Regions from separate parts of the Homo sapiens genome. Here region 2 is linked to region 1. The links come from fine-mapping of genetic effects on gene expression. Tissue or cell type: whole blood. Region 1 holds a variant in brackets; the other region holds the start of a gene. All regions are shown on one strand. Distances are from middle to middle.

Region 1 (8,092 bases):
CCAACATTTTTTTTCAGAAATGAATTAAATTTTGGATATTCTAGGAGATTTTTCTTCTGTCCATCAACCAAAATTCTTATGGCGGTTCACTCAAAAACACTTTTTGAGCAGCCTCATCCCTCCCTACAGGTCAGCCAAGACTACAACAAAATGATTAAGAGGATGGAGAGAAAAAAAAAAAAGCAACTAATATAAAGAGGAAATAAAATGAGTGATTTGTTGACTTGCAGGGCCAAGGAAAACCATGACAATGTGTCTGGCAAGTTCTTCCCCTGTGTGACTTGCTCATATTTCAAATAGTGGAGTAAGTATGGGAGATATCTGATGAGATTAGGGGTGTTTTCGGGTCAAATTTCTATTTTTCTGGAATGCTTGCTAATTTAGACACTGCTTTCTAAGACAGGAATCATACCAGTGAAGCCCATGGCGGCTCCTTCTCGTGACTGTCTAAGCAGCCCAGCTCCATCTCGAAAGTCAATGTACACCAGATCTATGGCTTGGAGACCAAAGGCTTTCGCTATGACAACAATCTTTTGCCGGGCGTAGAGAATATCCAGGGTTTCTTTACTACTTGTTGCACCTGAAAATGGGATGTTAACAGAAAAAGGAGGCTTTAACTTTGGAAACCGCACCCAGATATTTATTATAAAACCTCAGTTTGTACAGATATCTAAACCTCCCTGGAAATTGCTCCTCCGCAAAATAAAATTATTGAAATACAAATGAAGACAGGGACGCGTGGAGGCCAAGTTAAACCTCGAATGTGTCTGTTTAACTGACAAGGCATCTTTCAATAGAATTACTTCTACCTGCATTAAGAGAAGGCCCCTTCCCCATTCTGGGAGGCTGGGTCAGGGTCGCAAGGGACTCCTGATATATTTTTTTCCTTCTTATCATCGCTTGAAAAGTGCCAGTCCAAAGACAGCACCACAAAGGGTGGCCCAGCAGCTATGCAGGGCAATGGTTCGTGTTTCACAGCAAGCACAGAACTGTGTGTGCTGCGATTGCCCTGTCCAAACTGAAGTTCTGAGCCAAATGCTTCAGCTTCAGGGTCTGTCTGGATGGAGAACTTGGGGAGACGGGAGGGCACTTGTTTTGAGAGGGCTGGAAAGCATCGATATGCCTTCTGTAGCCCGCTGAACCGTTGGATACACAAGTCTCCTGGAAAGACTCGTATTCAAATAAATTCAGTTTTTTCACCCTGAGGGGAGGGAAGTGTCCCTGTTTACATTTGGAACATGCCACTCCCTGCCTAGGGAAAGTGCCTGTCTTCAGGTCACTGGGGCTGGTTTCTGTGGCCTCGGCCTCTTTTCTAAATGCTTCACGGTCTCCAGTCAAACATGCAGACCCCTCAAGTGCAGCTCACAAGGGATGGTGAGAATCGGTGAAAATCAGCACATTTAATACTAAGAGTTCGAAACATATTGTAAGAGAAATTTAAGATCCATTTAAAATAATATTTACCTACCGCATATTCTGTAGAAAACAATTCATTAAGGCAAATGTGAAATTGCCTTAAATTTGCGTTAGAAATCTAGACAGCCCACAGACTGATATGAAAACAAAATACTGAAGCAACGGTGAGGCTGTTCACATAATATATTTATTAGGAGCAAAGGAGATGCCATATATTCCTGAGCATGCCTGGGGCTGCAACAGGCTTTCTATTGCTCGTGTCTTTTATAAATGAACAGAAGTAATAATGCAGTGCTCTAGAAGCAGGGCAGCTATGAGGAGCCCTAAATTATCAGGAAGTAGTGTCCATTCCATTGTCATGAAAAACCATTGTCATGGTTGGCAAATATACATTGTTATGTAAATGTCCATCCTTGAGGGGCAAAGAAAAAATATATACACACATATACACACACACACACAGAAAAAGAGAGAGAGAGATGTCTTTGACACCTATGCTGGCTCGAAAGTCTTCTCCTCCAAAAACGACTGCATCTAGAAAGAGACCTACTTGAGGCCCGACCTTCAGGGTTTCTTCACACACTGCCTGTAAAAGAGCAGAACAGAACTAAGTCTCACGGAAACGCGTGCGTCAGAGGGAAGAGGCACGGTGCATTTCAGTAACAGGACGACCTGACTCTTAACACAGTTTGGCTGAAAGCAGTCCTAAAAACGCAGCCCAAATTTACCCCTTTCAAAAGGTATTTAATATCATCCAAGATAAGTATATTGTATATATTTGCTTTGTTTAATGGATTATATGAATATAGTTATAATGTTCAAATTGTAGTTCATCTCATTTTTGGAGAAACTTTGAGTTAACTCATTTTGCTTGCACTATAAGTTATTTATATCTTTCCAGAATTCGTTTTTGCTTTAAGAGACTCTCGTAAAACCACAGGGGAGAAGGAAGGAATTTTAAAATCAAACTAATTGAATTATTTGCATTAGGATCAAGCACATGGTCTCAGGATTAAAGACAGCACAAAAACCTGCAACTCCGGAGGGGAAAATAAAAATGCAACAAGTCATCCAAGATGTGTTCATAAAGCAACTTCGACATTTATATATGAAAGTCAAGGCAAATACCATTCGTCGTAGACATAACCGTGAATCTTGAAAGGTGGAGATATAACCTGCTAATAATATACGTGGGTGGGAAAGAAACGAGGAACCGGTGGGGACACTGTTGATTAATTTCAGACATTGTAAGTGCTTCTAAGTACATTATGGAATAAAATGGCGAAGCAGTGCTTAAAATTAAATCACTGGATGAATCTGGTTGCATCTTAGGGATATGCTTTTGATTATATTCTCAGGATTCTGGGGCTGGCTGGAAGAATGTATGGTTAGTTGTGTAAACAAGCTGCTCACAGGACAAGGTTTGAAGCAGGTCCCCAAACATTTGCACTCGACCCCTTCTGCACATCCCAAGGCCTCAAAGTTGCCGCTCACACATTCTCTCTCCAGTACAGTTCGACTATGTTTTTTCTGTTGTTTTTAGTGATTTCTTTTCTCCTGCCCTCTGTGGGGGCTGGGGTGGGGGAAGGGAATCTAGGAACTCTGAAAGGGGGTGCTAGATTGATGTTCGCAGGTCAGGTGGAATGAGAGGCATATTTTGGAAAATAATATAAATGCCCCCTGATAAACGAGAAAAAACGAGCTAGCTCTGAATTTGTTAAGACCGGTAGTTTAGTGCAACCACACAACGGCTGAAAACACTTGGCTCAGCCAATATTCCCGCATGTATATTAGAAGATATTCTAATGTGGCAAACTGAAAAACTGTACTGCAAATTATTTGTGTGCATGAACTTACAAACAATAATCTTCTCTGCTAGACATTACTGATAATGTTGCTACAGAGAGGGCAGAACATTTCCCACTGAAAAGACATTTGATAGAAAAGAACATTTCAAAGTTAATTCATAAGGGTGACAAATTTTCATGTACATTTAGTCTATAAATGCAATAATTCAAAGCATATAATTACACAGTGATTAGTTAAAATTGTTACTAGGAATATACAAATGCTTCATTTAAATATTTTGGACTGGGAAGCTTTTCCTTCTACCTAACTGATTTCATTGTTTTCTAAGATGCTGGCAACCTGGTTTTTGGACTATTACAGATAACAAATGGTGCTCAACATTTCCTTTGCTTATAAATCTTTCTAGAAACACATTTTAAGAAGATGTTAAAATTGAAAGCAAAAGTTCTCTTTAGGTGATAAATAAAATGCTAACTTATTAACCGTATTATGGCTTCCTTACCTTAAAATTGAGCAAACCCATTGCAGTTTCCACAAAAGGGATTAAATTCATTGGTTGTTCAAGTTTTCGGCCTTTTAAGTGGAATGAAAATTTGTCTGCAAACTAAAATCAGAAGTGTCATAGGTGATTAGTGGGGAAAAAATGTACAATCACGGAAATGTAGACCCAGAAGTAGTATTTAAGTCTTTGACCTGAGGAAGTAATATCCAAGCCTCTTTCGTCCACACAAAAGAATTTTTTTAAAAAAATAAGAAGAAAGTCCAAAGAAAAAGGTAATGAAGTTCCCACCAAACTAAATAGTAAAATCCTAAGCATTACAATTTTTTTCTCCCAAAGGAGCAACTTGAGGCCTAGGAGTTAGAACTGGAAGGAGAGAGTATAAACGCTTTCCCTGAAAACGCATTTACTTAAGACCTCTTGCCCTCGCTTCGTTAAATGCAAATGGTAGGCCCTTAAAACAATGAACTCTTCCTCTACCTGCCATTCTGTTTTTGTTTCGTGCCCAGCACTGACATCAGTGCAACTGTTCAGCAGCCTTCTACGTGGAGTCCATATTATTCATTATAGCACCATTACCCTTTGTTCAGAAGGTTTTTCTTCATAATTTTTT[A/TA]GCTTACCTAGGAAGACCTTAAAAAGGAAGTTTAATTCTTTGAAGACCAAAGCTCGCCAATTTTTTCCATGAGACCAGTTCACAGCTAGCTCTGTGCTGCCAGTGGGGTAGCCCAAATTCCAAAATCTATCATCTGGAAACATACAAAAGCTCTTGCCCAGATTCCTCCCCCTCTTCAAAAGGGGGAAAAAAACACACTCTAAATTGTAAATCTATTATGTCTATCTAGATCTAATAAGATGTGGGGAGATAGATAGAGAAGAAACACAGGTATGATAAAGGTATTTTTGTAAATAAAGATGAAAACATATATATCCATTTTAAATTTAAGGAATATTCAGCCATTAATAGATATCAAAGGAAAAGGGAATTTTAATCATCTCTCCATTCAGTCTCAGTTGGGTAAATCATATCTAAGAGATTTGCATAAATATAAACCATCAAAGACTTTTCATCTTCAAAGGGGGTTTCAAGACCCTATAAGCTTTGTACTGTAATCATCACAGGTCACCACCCTGCAGGAATAAGGCTGCTATGGCAACATAAAAAAACTAATGCTTAAGGCTTAGCATAATATTCTGACTAATAGAAAGGAAACTCATTTGAAAAGCTGGCAGCCTATTTACCAGAAGCGGGATTAGAGGTGTTATTTCCCCTTCTAGCTGCCCCCTCCTTGCCGGTGCACCACCCCCCTAAAAAATCTAATCACTGGGATCTTTAAAAAGCTTTTGAGCAATTTGCAGTAACTTTACAATTAGGCTAAAATAAATCACAGCTTTCAGTAATGAAGAATTATTCCCAGTTGCTCCCACTGCCCCCCCTTCAAAGGGCATCATCATCACCTCCTTAGTAACTTTTCAAGGGAAGGAATAACTCAACCAAAATAGCAAGAAGGAGCAGGGGGTGACAATTTAAGGGGATAAAATGTATAGTATTTGATGTAGATGAAAATAAAATATAATTTATTTCTCATTTATGCTAGAAAGTGGTAGCACAGTATTAGTGGTTTTGGTGTTAAAAATGTAGTAGGGATATTTTTTCTCATTAAAAAAGAAAACTTGTGAAGTGACTTGCCCCATTCTTTGTGATGACAGTTATAACTACAAAAATCATGGACTTTAAAACCAAGTCAACACTTTACAATATATTCCCTGTTCTTAGTGAGAACACCCCAATGCCTTTTGTTTTTAAGCCAATAGGGGCATTTAAAAATTAAATATTCTAGCCCATCCTCCTCCTCCTCCTCCTCCCCCTCTTTCTTAAAAAATTGCACTAAGTACTAACACAAAAGGTAACTAGTGGAGAAGTTTCAATTAATTTTTTCAAAAGGAGACGATTAAATGTTTCCGGCCTGGTAAAGTGTTCATTTCAGCGAGGTGGAGGGGACTGGGGTAGGGGGAGGAGAAGAAGGGGGAGAAATCACAAAGAGATTGGGGAGGAGATGAAGTAGCAGGGCTCAGCGATTCTTTCAATTCCAGTGCACACCCAATAGTGTGTTGGAAGAATGCACACTGTTCGGGATTTGTGGGAGAATTGTCCCATGACAAAGGAGGCAGGGTTACGCTTGTTATAGTCCAATAAGCCGTGCCAGTCAAACAAGAACCCACACTAGCGACAAAAGGCGAGCAAGAGATTCTCACACAAAAGAAAACAAGTAAGCCCATCTTTCAGTTGTGCATCAGGCTCTGGGTTTTATGCTTCGCATAAATACAAACGGAGAGGAAAAAATAAACAGCCAAAAGGACTTCTGTTAACTAGAAGTTCTATTTAAATTTCTGTATGTGTCTCACTTCCAAGGATTTAAAACAGTGAACAGAAGCCATAGCGGAAGGCTGGCTGGGTCTCCCCCTCCCCCATCTTAAGTTAAAGGTAATAACGGTGATAAATAGGCATTAACTATGAAACCAAAAGGGAACAGTGACTTCAGAGTCCATTTCAATCAACTTAAGACATATCTGAATGGGCTCAGGACCCTCCAGGATATTAACATACTCTTAACTAGTATCTCCCAGCTTCTGAGGGTAACCCTGGAGAGAAGAACTCCAGCTTAGTCAATAAATAACTGGTCCTTGAATACGGGTCTTCAAGAAGGATCCAACACAGAGCTGTCCAAAAGAAACTGTATAGCAGCAGCTACATATAATAATTTTAAATTATCTCGTAGCTACATTGAGGGTAAACTGAAACAGGTGAATTTAATTTTAATAGTATCTTGTATTTAGCCCAATAGATCCCAAATATTATTTCAATGTGTAATCAATATAAAAATTATCGAGATAGTTTACATTCTCTTTTTGTCCCCTCAGTGAGTCCCGAGTCTTCAAAATCGAGTGTGTATTTTGCACTTCCAGCACATCTCCATTTGTGCTGGCCACGTTTCAATGCTCAGAAGCCACATGTCATAGTGGCCGTGGCACTGGGCAACGCAGACCTCACACATCGGGTGCATTCAGCAGGTGAGCAGTTTCGTAGGTGTTACAACAACTCAGGGTATTGCTGTGGTGGCAGCCACAGCCTCAGAGATAATACTAGATGTGGCTTCCATGAAACCACCACTGCCCACTCGCCCCGACCACAAACGCTTCCAGTTTTCACACCTCACAGGGCCCAGAATGACACATTTTCTGTCCCAGAACAACACAGTGAAATGTTATTTTATTCAGTAGAGATCTGCAGAATAATAGCGACCCTCAAATAAAATCTAGCCCCTCCACCCTTTGTCAATTAAAACAATCATAGTGTAATTAGGCCTATTTCAAAAGTTTTCTTAAGTAATTTGACATGCCAACCACTTTACATTTCAGGTTTTTATTGGCTGAAAAGTCTGTCATGAAACACAAACACACCTGTCAGCAATTTAAAAAGGATGCACTAGAGAACTGTTCAGGAAATAATATCAGTGCTAATTGAAACCACTAGTTAAAAGCTTCCTGTTCATTCCTCCAGTTGCCCTAAAGAGTGACCTTTTCCTCCCCTTCTTTGGGTTCATTTTTTCATATGCGGCAAATGTGCCCTCCCTGCCTGGGATGATTTCAGATGAATCTCAGTAAGGGCCATTTACGTCACTGCTCTTCCAGGTGGAGGCCTTGGCTTAGGGCCGGGCAGGGTGGAGGAAGGGATGAGATTCTCGGGCAACCTAGTTTCCAGGGATTACTCTGGGAGGGCTACTGAGGAGGCTGTTCTGGCCAAACCACACATCCAATTAGGAAGCGAAGCATCATTTCAAAAGTGCAGTTGTTTCATAGAACACTTTGGGCAAAGGCGAGTTTTCCTTGTGTAAAAGAAACGGATACTTGAGCTTACTGCTTTTTCTCAATTCCCTTCCTCTCTGCTCTCTGCATGCATTTTCCAAACCTGTGGCACCCAGATCCCTTCTTCCTGCTACTCCTCCTTAGCTGCTCCTGAGTCTTAAGGCAAAGCATTAGCTACTCACCCACTGGATTTCTTCAGGACTTTCCACCTTTGGTAGCATCAGGCTGGAAGGAAGGACCCGGGATTGCAAAAGGGTCTCTAGGTCTTCTTCCGCCAGACCACTGGAAACTGAGTTGACTCTCACACATTTTTCAGTAGGGCCCAGATCAATGTCTTCAAGAGTTTTTACAATTCTCAGTCGAGCTTCATTCTGTAAGTGTCAATAAAAAGTTTATTGTTTATTTTTATCATTGAGGGGAGCACCATCAAATGGTTGATGAAACTGTTATGTGGATTCAGAGTCTGAGCACCATTATTCTATCTACACATTTCCTGTCCACCAA
Region 2 (8,104 bases), 260 kb after region 1:
AGTGCTCATGTCTAGCTAACCTTCAGTCTCTGTGGAAGCAGGACAAACTGTGGCTGAATGTTGAAGACATGTCCTGACACACACAGAGTCCCTCAGCAAAGACTAGGAGACTTACTGGTTCCAGGAATTTAAGGAAACCTTTGTCTAATTGTTAGACTACTAAGCTAACCAAGCAGAGACCTCGCTGGTTGCACATGACAAAGAATACAATGCAGAATTAGTTTATTAAAGTCACTAAGCAAACAACAACAACAATAAACCCTGGCAAAAGGGAGAAATCTGATTTCCAGAGTTGCCCCATTATATTACTTAAAATGTCCAGTTTTCAAAAAAATATACAAGACATGCAACGAAAAGAAAGTATGACCTATACACACAGGAAAAAAGTAGTCAGTACAAACTGTCCCTGAGGAAGTCCAGATGTTGGACTTACTAATTAAATCATCTATTTAAAGTATGTTCAAAAAACGAAAGGAAACTATGCATAAAGAACTGAAGGAGTCCAGGTGCAGTCGTTCATGCCTAGAATTCCACTGCTTTGGAGGCCAAGGCAAGAAAATCATTTGAACCCAGCAGTTCAAGACCACCCTTGGCAACACTGCAAGACTCTGTCTCTTCAAAAAATTTAAAAATTAGCTGGGCATAGTGGTGTGTGCCTGTAGTCCCAGCTACTGGGGAGGCTGAGGCAGGAGGATCACTTGAGCCCAGGAGCTGCAGGCTGCAGTGAGCTACGATCTCACCACTGCACTCCAGCCTGGAGACTCCGTCTCTAAGAGAAAGAAAGAAAAAAAGAACTAAAGGAAAGTATGAGAACGATGTTTCAGTACATAGAGAATATCAATGAAGAGATAGAAAGTATAGAAAAGGGCCGGGCATGATGGCTCATGCCTGTAATCCCAATACTATGAGCGACAGAGGCAGGCAGATTGCTTGAGCCAAGTTCGAGACCAGCCTGAGCAACATGGCGAAACCTGATTTCTACAAAAGAATAGAAACAATTAGCCAGGTGCAGTGGTGCACACCTGTAGTCCCAGCTATTTGGGAGGCTGAGGTGGGAGGACAGCTTGAGCCCAGGAGGCAGAGGTTGTAGTGAGCCCAGATTGCACCACTGCACTCCAGCCTGGGTGACAGAGTGAGACTCATTCTCCAAAAAGAAAGAAGTTCTGGATTAAAATGAAAATGATTTGAGTTGGAAGACGGAGCAATCAGCAAACCTAAAAACAGGTCGGCTGGGCACGGTGGCTCACACCTGTAATCCCAGCACTTTGGGAGGCCAAGGCAGGTGGATCACGAGGTCAGAAGATCGAGACCATCCTGGCCAACATGGTGAAACCCCGTCTCTACTAAAAATACAAAAATTAGCTGGACGTGGTGGCGCGTGCCTGTAATCCCAACTACTCGGGAAGCTGGAGCAGGAGAATCGCTTGAACCCGGGAGTCAGAGGTTGCAGTGGGCAGAAATTGCGCCACTGAACTCCAGCCTGGTGACAGAGCAAGACTCTGTCTCAAAAAAAAAAAAAAAAAAAAAAAAAACAAAGACAGGTCAATTGACATTGTCCAGCCTGAGGAACAGAAAGAAAATGGAACAGTCTCAAAGACCTGTGGGGTTCCATCAACTACACCAACATATACGCAATGGGAGCCTCCGAAAGAGAAGAGAGAGATAAGAGAGTAGACTTTTTTGAGAGAACAATAGCCAAAAACTTCCCAAATTTGATGTATACACATCCAAGAAACTCAATAAACTTCCAAGAGGATAAACTCAAACAGATCTACACACATCATAATAAAACCACCGAAAGACCAAGACAAAGAGAAAATCAAGCAAAAAAAAAAAAAAAAAAAAAAAAAAAAAGACTCATCACTTACATAGAACCCTAATAACATTAACGTCTGAATTCTCATTAGAATAATGGAGGCAAAAAGACAGTGCGATAATACGCTTTAAAATGCTCAAAGGAAAAAAAATGCCAATCAAGAATCCTATATTCAGCGGGTAGACATGTCGAGAACAGACCAGTGTGCTAAGGCGGGTGAGGAGCACTGAGTTAACCCCCAGCGTACTGGCGTGGGGACTGTGTGCGCTCACTGGACCCGCTACTGAACAGGTCACAGACGCTGGCCCCCTCAAAAGGCGCCAGAAAAGGACCCTTCTGGACCAGCCTGGATACACTGCCTGAGCTGCTCCTCTAGGGCGAGGGGTGACTCCCCTGTGCCAGGGGCAGCGGAGGAAATGGGAAAGTGGGATGCATAAGACTAGGTGGGTCCTCCCATAGGACATGGGTGACTGAAGAGTCACAGTGCAAGAAGACGTAAGAAGTTCAGACCCAGGCCGGGCACGGTGGCTCACGCCTTTAATCCCAACACTTTGGGAGGCCGAGGCAGGTGGATCACCCGAGGTCAGGAGCTCCAGACCAGCCTGGCCAACATGGTGAAACCTCGTCTCTATTAAAAATACAAAAATTAGCCGGGCATGGTGGCGGACGCCCTGTAATCCCAACTACTCCGGAGGCTGCGGCAGGAGAATCACTTGAATCCGGGAGGCGGAGGTTGCAGTCAGCTGAGATGGCGCCATTGCACTCCAGCCTGGGCGACAAAAGCGAAACTCCATCTCGGAAAAAAAAAAAAAAAAAAAAAAAAAGAAGTTCCAGACCACCAGGCCGGCCATGGTGGCTCACGCCTGTAATCCCAGCACTTTGGGAGGCTGATCCGGGTGGACCCCCTTGAGGTCAGGAGTTCGAGAACAGCCTGGCCAACATGGCGAAACTCTGTCTCTACTAAAAATACAAAAATTAGCCAGGGGTGGTGGTGCACACCTGTAATGCCAGCCACTCAGGAGGCTGAGGCATGAGAATCGCTTGAACCCAGGAGGTGGAGGTTGCAGTAAGCCGAGATTACACCACTGTACTACAGCCTAGGTGACAGACCGAGACTCTGTCTCAAAAAATAAAAATAAATAAATAAAGAAGTTCCAGACCAGGAGCCATACACTTAGTGTTTGAACCAAACTCTCTCATTACTGGTCATAGGGCTTTGAGAATCCTTAACCTTTCTGACCCTGTTTTTTCATCTTTATAAACATGACACCCAACTTCTTCACATGGTGGTCAAGGGAACCAAATGAGACCATGTATGTGCACGTACCTAGGCGATGGGCAAGTGCTAGACCAGCGGTTCTCAAAGTGTGGTCCAAAGACACCTGAGGGGGTCCCTGAGACCCGTTGAGAGGGTCTGCTTGGTCCTCCCTTTCCCAACTAATATCTGCATCTGCATGAGCCCAGAATTTCTTTCAAATATTTCCTTCAAAACAGCTGATATGAGACTCCAGCTGTCCTTTATTAAACCAAAGAAATTTTCAAAAATATAAAAACCATGAGCCAATCTTCTCACTTTTTTTTTGAGAAGTTATGCATTAAAGTGTTATTTGTATTAAAAGTTAATGGGTTTGTTATTAAGTGAATATTTTTTAAATTTCTGGTTTAATTCCTCATGCACAAAAATCAATAGATATAAGCAAAAGCTTTGGGGGGTCCTCAAATTATTTTTAGACGTGTAAACGGGTCCTGAGACCAAACCGTTTGGGAACCGCTGTGTTAAACGAACCGCAGGTGTTCTTCACCAGGCAAGCCGCCTCTCAAAGACTGGCGCGTTCACGTTTGCCATTTGGGGGAGGCAGGCAGTTTTGTTTCCTGGGGCTGAGTCCAGGTAATTCGACCTAAGGTGTGTACCCATTTTCCGGGTGCAACGAGGGCCCTCCCAAAGGGAGGCGCGGGCGGCAGCGACCTTGGACGAGGTCGAGCCAGCGCGTGGGAGGCGCATGGTGCTTCCGTCCGGCTGGGTTCCCGTGAGGGCTTGGGGAGGCCGCGCCCGGCCCGCGGGGCTGCAACAGGAGCCGACCCGCGGCGAGCCGGGCCGGGAAGGCGGGGAACGGGGACCTGCACTCACAGCCTCAGCAGCGCCGCCGCCGCAGCTCCGCGCGCCGCCCTCCGCAGCAGACGTAGCGCCATCTTCCCGACGCGCGCGCCCCGCCCTTTGCCTTTAGCCACGCCCACCCCACATTCCACGCCCCCACGGCGACACCGACCCCCCCCCCGTCCCAGGCCCCGCCTCGCTCTGTCTTCGCCCCGCCCCGTCCCGCCAGCCACACCCCGCCAGCCACGCCCTCCTTCCTCCCAGCACCCGCTCCGCCCCGCGGCGAGTCCCGAGGTCAACTGCCCTCCCGGCCAGGGCTTAGGACCTTCGTCCCCGCTGTCATGGGGGACAGAGCAGAGGATCTGAATGGTTGGGGCCTCTTTGAGGGGCCTCTCTGGTGACCGAATCCAACTCTCTGAGCTTCTGAGTTTTTGAGGCAACTGTTGACAGACTGCGTTTTCCCAGCCAGAAGAGCCAACATTTCTAGGGATTTCTTCGCAGCTTTTGTTGTTAAAATACCGCCTAATACTTTGTGAGCCCCATCATGTGCATATCTTGGTTAGCAATTAATCTAGAGTGGTCAAAGTGCAGGAAGGCTGCATCCTGGAACACACATGCCTGCAATAGGTCAGAGCAGCTGTTGGCACTCTCTGGGCAGGGAAACTGACAGCAGCTCTTTACTCTGCCCCCTGCAGCCGTTCTGCAGCGGTGAGAACGCCGAGGCGTTAAAACAGGCTGGGCCCTGCCCCTGCCTCTTCTTTCACCTTCCCTGATCCAGCCGGCCTCCACCTGCCGACCTTCACCTACCCGGGCCCATGTTACCCCTTAACCATGTCTTTTCCTTGGCACTCGGCATGTTTCTTTTTCAGCTGTGACTCCGTTCCATTCATGCTCTAGACTTAAACCTGAAACCGTTTCTCAGAACCTTCCAGTGGAAGCTGACTTGTGCTCTTGGATGCAAAAAGTGGCCGTTTAAACAAACAAAAGCCTTTTCAGCCAGAGGGGGTTCCAAGATTTGGAAAAGTCCAGGTGACTGGGAACATGGATGCTAAACTTCTGCTGAGCCTAAGAATTATTGTTATATTCGATACCAACAGGGGAGACTGCTCAACCCCTTGGTGCCCTCCCCCAGCTCCCACGCCTGCTCCACCTCAGGCCTCGCCTGTCTACTCCAATTTGGTCACTTTCTTGTCACCACCTTAGTCCCAGCCAGTGCCCGGTCCAGCCATACTGAAGCCTGAGGCAAAGGCAATTTCAGTAACACCAATCCTGTCTTTAATTAAAATTTTGATATTTTGTTCATAATGGGATTTTTCCATTATCTTGGTTTTTAGTTTAGAATATTACTTTTTTTTTTTTTTTGAGACAGTCTTGCTCTGTCGCCCAGGCTGTAGTGCAGTGGCACGATCTCAGCTCACACACTGTAACCTCCACCTCCTAGGCTTGAGTGATTCTCACCCCTCAGCCTCCTGAGTAGCTGGGACTACAGGCAAGTGCCACCACTTCCAACTAATTGTTTTGTATTTTTAGTAGAGATAGGGTTTCACCATGTTGGCTAGGCTGGTCTCGAACTCGTGGCCTCAAGTGATCCATCCGCGTCAGCCTCCCAAAGTGCTGGGCTTACAGGCATGAGCCACCATGCCAGGCCAATATTACTTATCTTTTTTTTTTTTTTTTTTTCTGAGATGGAGTCTCGCTCTGTCGCCCAGGCTGGAGTGCAGTAATTACTGAGACTTCTCCTTAAATTTTGCATCCCAGGCTGGGGCTGCACTCACCTCACTCAAGTCTGATTCTGGACATCATCATCCTTTACCTGGATTATTTCAAAGCCTCCTTGCTCCCATTCTTCCCTCCTACAATCACCCGTTTGCCATAAAACCTGGCTGACCTTTTAAAAGCATGACGCAGCTCCTAGTTCCAGAGTTGACTTGCTGTGTGACTTTGGTCAAGTTTCTTAAGCTCTCTGTTTCCTCATCTATAAAATGGGGGTATAAATACCTCATCACCTCATAGGCTTGTTATAATGATAGACTGAGTTTACATATACATAGAGAGAGACTGCACACTTAAAATCTAAGCAAGTTCTCAGTAGTGTTAACTATTCCTCATTATTATTGTCATTGCATCGCTTCCCTTCTTAAAACCCTTTAGTGGCTTTAGAATAAAATCCGAGTTCTTCCCCATGACCCTTAAAGCCTCACACGGTCTGGCCCCTGCCAGCCTCTCCAATTTATCTCCAGCCCCACTCATCTTCTGTCTGTGTTTTCTAAGTCCACGAGGCTCTCTCCCACCGTGGGGCCTTCACACATGCCGTTCCTCATCCCCAGAATGCTCATGGCTACACCTGCTCATCCTCCAGGACCTTCAGCCTACGTGCCACCTCCTCACAGGGGCCTGTGCTAATAACCTAAAGATCCCCAACGGCGCCCCCACATCTATTTCACTGTCACAGTGCCTGGTCATCTCCACCACAATGTCGATATATGAGTTTGTGAATTTATTAGGTTCATGCCAAAGTAATTGCGGTTTTTGCCATTCAAAGTAATGGCAAGAACAATTTCATCTTATATGTATTGAATACCTGCCAGGTAGGATTCACTGAGCCAGGTGCTGGGAGCACAGCAGTGACAAGACATACAAGGTCCCTGCTCTCAAAAAACTTACAGAATTGAAAATAATGGCAAAACCCACAATTACTTTTGCACCGACCTAATACTTCTTTATTGTGCCTTTCCCCAGCAGTTCTCAGAGGGTGGGGTGGGATGGGATGACTAACCATCTATCAGGTGGGCTTTGGGATGCAGTATTGTTGTTTAGGGGGCAGGGCTAGTGATGTGCTGGGTAGCCACCTTGGGAGAAAGGCTCTTGGTGTCTTGACTTAGAAACACCTTCTGTAGGATGAGAGCATAACTTCTTTGAGAGCAGGGACCTTATATGTCTTGTCGCTGCTGTGCCCCCAGCACCTGGCTCAGTGATTTATACCCGGCAGGTATTCAATACATATAAGATGGTGGCTCACGCCTATAATCCCAGCACATTTGGAGGCCGAGGCGGGCGGATCACCTGAGGTCAGGAGTTCGAGACCAGCCTGGCCAACATGGTAAAGCCCTGTCTCTATTAAAAATACAAAAATTAGCCGGGTATGGTGGTGTGCGCCTGTAGTCCCAGCTACTCGGGAGGCTGAGACAGGAGAATTGCTTGAACCTGGGAGGTGGAGGTTGCAGTGAGCTGAGATCATGCCACTGCACTCCAGCCTGGGTGACAGAGCAAGACTCCATCTCAAACAAAACAAAACAAAACAAAATGTATATATGATGAAAATGTTCTACCAGCCTCATTACAGTTGAAAACTGCTGTATAACTAGTTATCCTTATTTAAAATGCCTTGGATCTAAAGTAGGTCCTACTATGTCTTATTTGCTAATTGGTTCAATTTCAGATTCTCCTAGAAGAAATTGTAGCTGTGCCCATTCTCACCAGCAATGGTAGGGGGTTGTTGAGTTTCTTCACAAGATTACTGACTCATGCATTTTGCTAATCAGTAGGTAGGTTAACAACTAACTGTTTCCTAATGCTAGTACATGTTAAAATAAAGTTTTATTAACTTTATCTACATAGTATGTGGGTGTCTGGAGGACACGTGTATTAGTCCGTTTTCACATTGCTATAAAGAACTGACCGAAGCTGGGTAATTTATAAAGGAAAGAGCTTTAATTGACTCACAGTTCAGCATAGCTGGGGAAGCCACAGGAAACTTATAATCATGACGGAACGTGAAGGGGAAACAAGGCACCTTCTTCTCAAGATGGCAGGAAGGAGAATGAACACAGAAGGAACTACCAAACTCACGAGTGAGTTCTCCAATCTCCGATCTCGAGAACAGCATGGGGGAAACTGCCCCCGTGACTCAGTGACCTCCACCTGGTCTCTCCCTTGACACGTGGGGATTTGGAGGATTTCAATTCAAGATGAGATTTTGGATGGGGACACAGCCAAACCATATCAACATATTTCCAAATATAATAGAGAAAGGGATTCAGAGTTCCTCCTTTAGGACAGTCAAGTCTATCTTTACTCACAGCTTCCAAAACTGAAAAGAAAAGTATCAATTTTCCAAGTGCATCAAGAGAGCATATGAAATTTAGTAGGGTGAATAATTCCGAGATTCACTATCCTGTTGAGTTGAGCAGTCT

Evidence for each region. PIP is the estimated chance that this variant, and not a neighbour inherited with it, causes the effect.
Region 2: it holds the start of CLYBL, and the variant in region 1 is fine-mapped to the expression of CLYBL in whole blood (INTERVAL, PIP above 0.99).

What each region holds. Positions count from the first base shown.
Region 1 is chr13:99,858,728-99,866,819 of GRCh38, reverse strand. CLYBL (citramalyl-CoA lyase) reads right to left here. Exons shown (of 9, transcript NM_206808.5): 3 at 7,771-7,959; 4 at 3,728-3,829; 5 at 1,909-2,002; 6 at 413-580. The region is part of intron 1 of CLYBL-AS3 (CLYBL antisense RNA 3); the gene reads left to right. Among named protein-coding and RNA genes, the nearest start is that of CLYBL-AS3, 94 kb to the left of the region's middle. The variant A/TA (reference allele first, on the strand shown) is at 4,338.
Region 2 is chr13:99,602,598-99,610,701 of GRCh38, reverse strand. CLYBL (citramalyl-CoA lyase) reads right to left here and starts at 4,012. Exons shown (of 9, transcript NM_206808.5): 1 at 3,945-4,012. The coding sequence starts at 4,006. LOC105370332 (a long non-coding RNA gene) reads left to right here and starts at 4,853. Exons shown (of 3, transcript XR_931674.3): 1 at 4,853-4,940; 2 at 7,351-7,456. RefSeq lists a silencer at 3,672-4,231 and enhancers at 3,953-4,247, 4,170-5,149.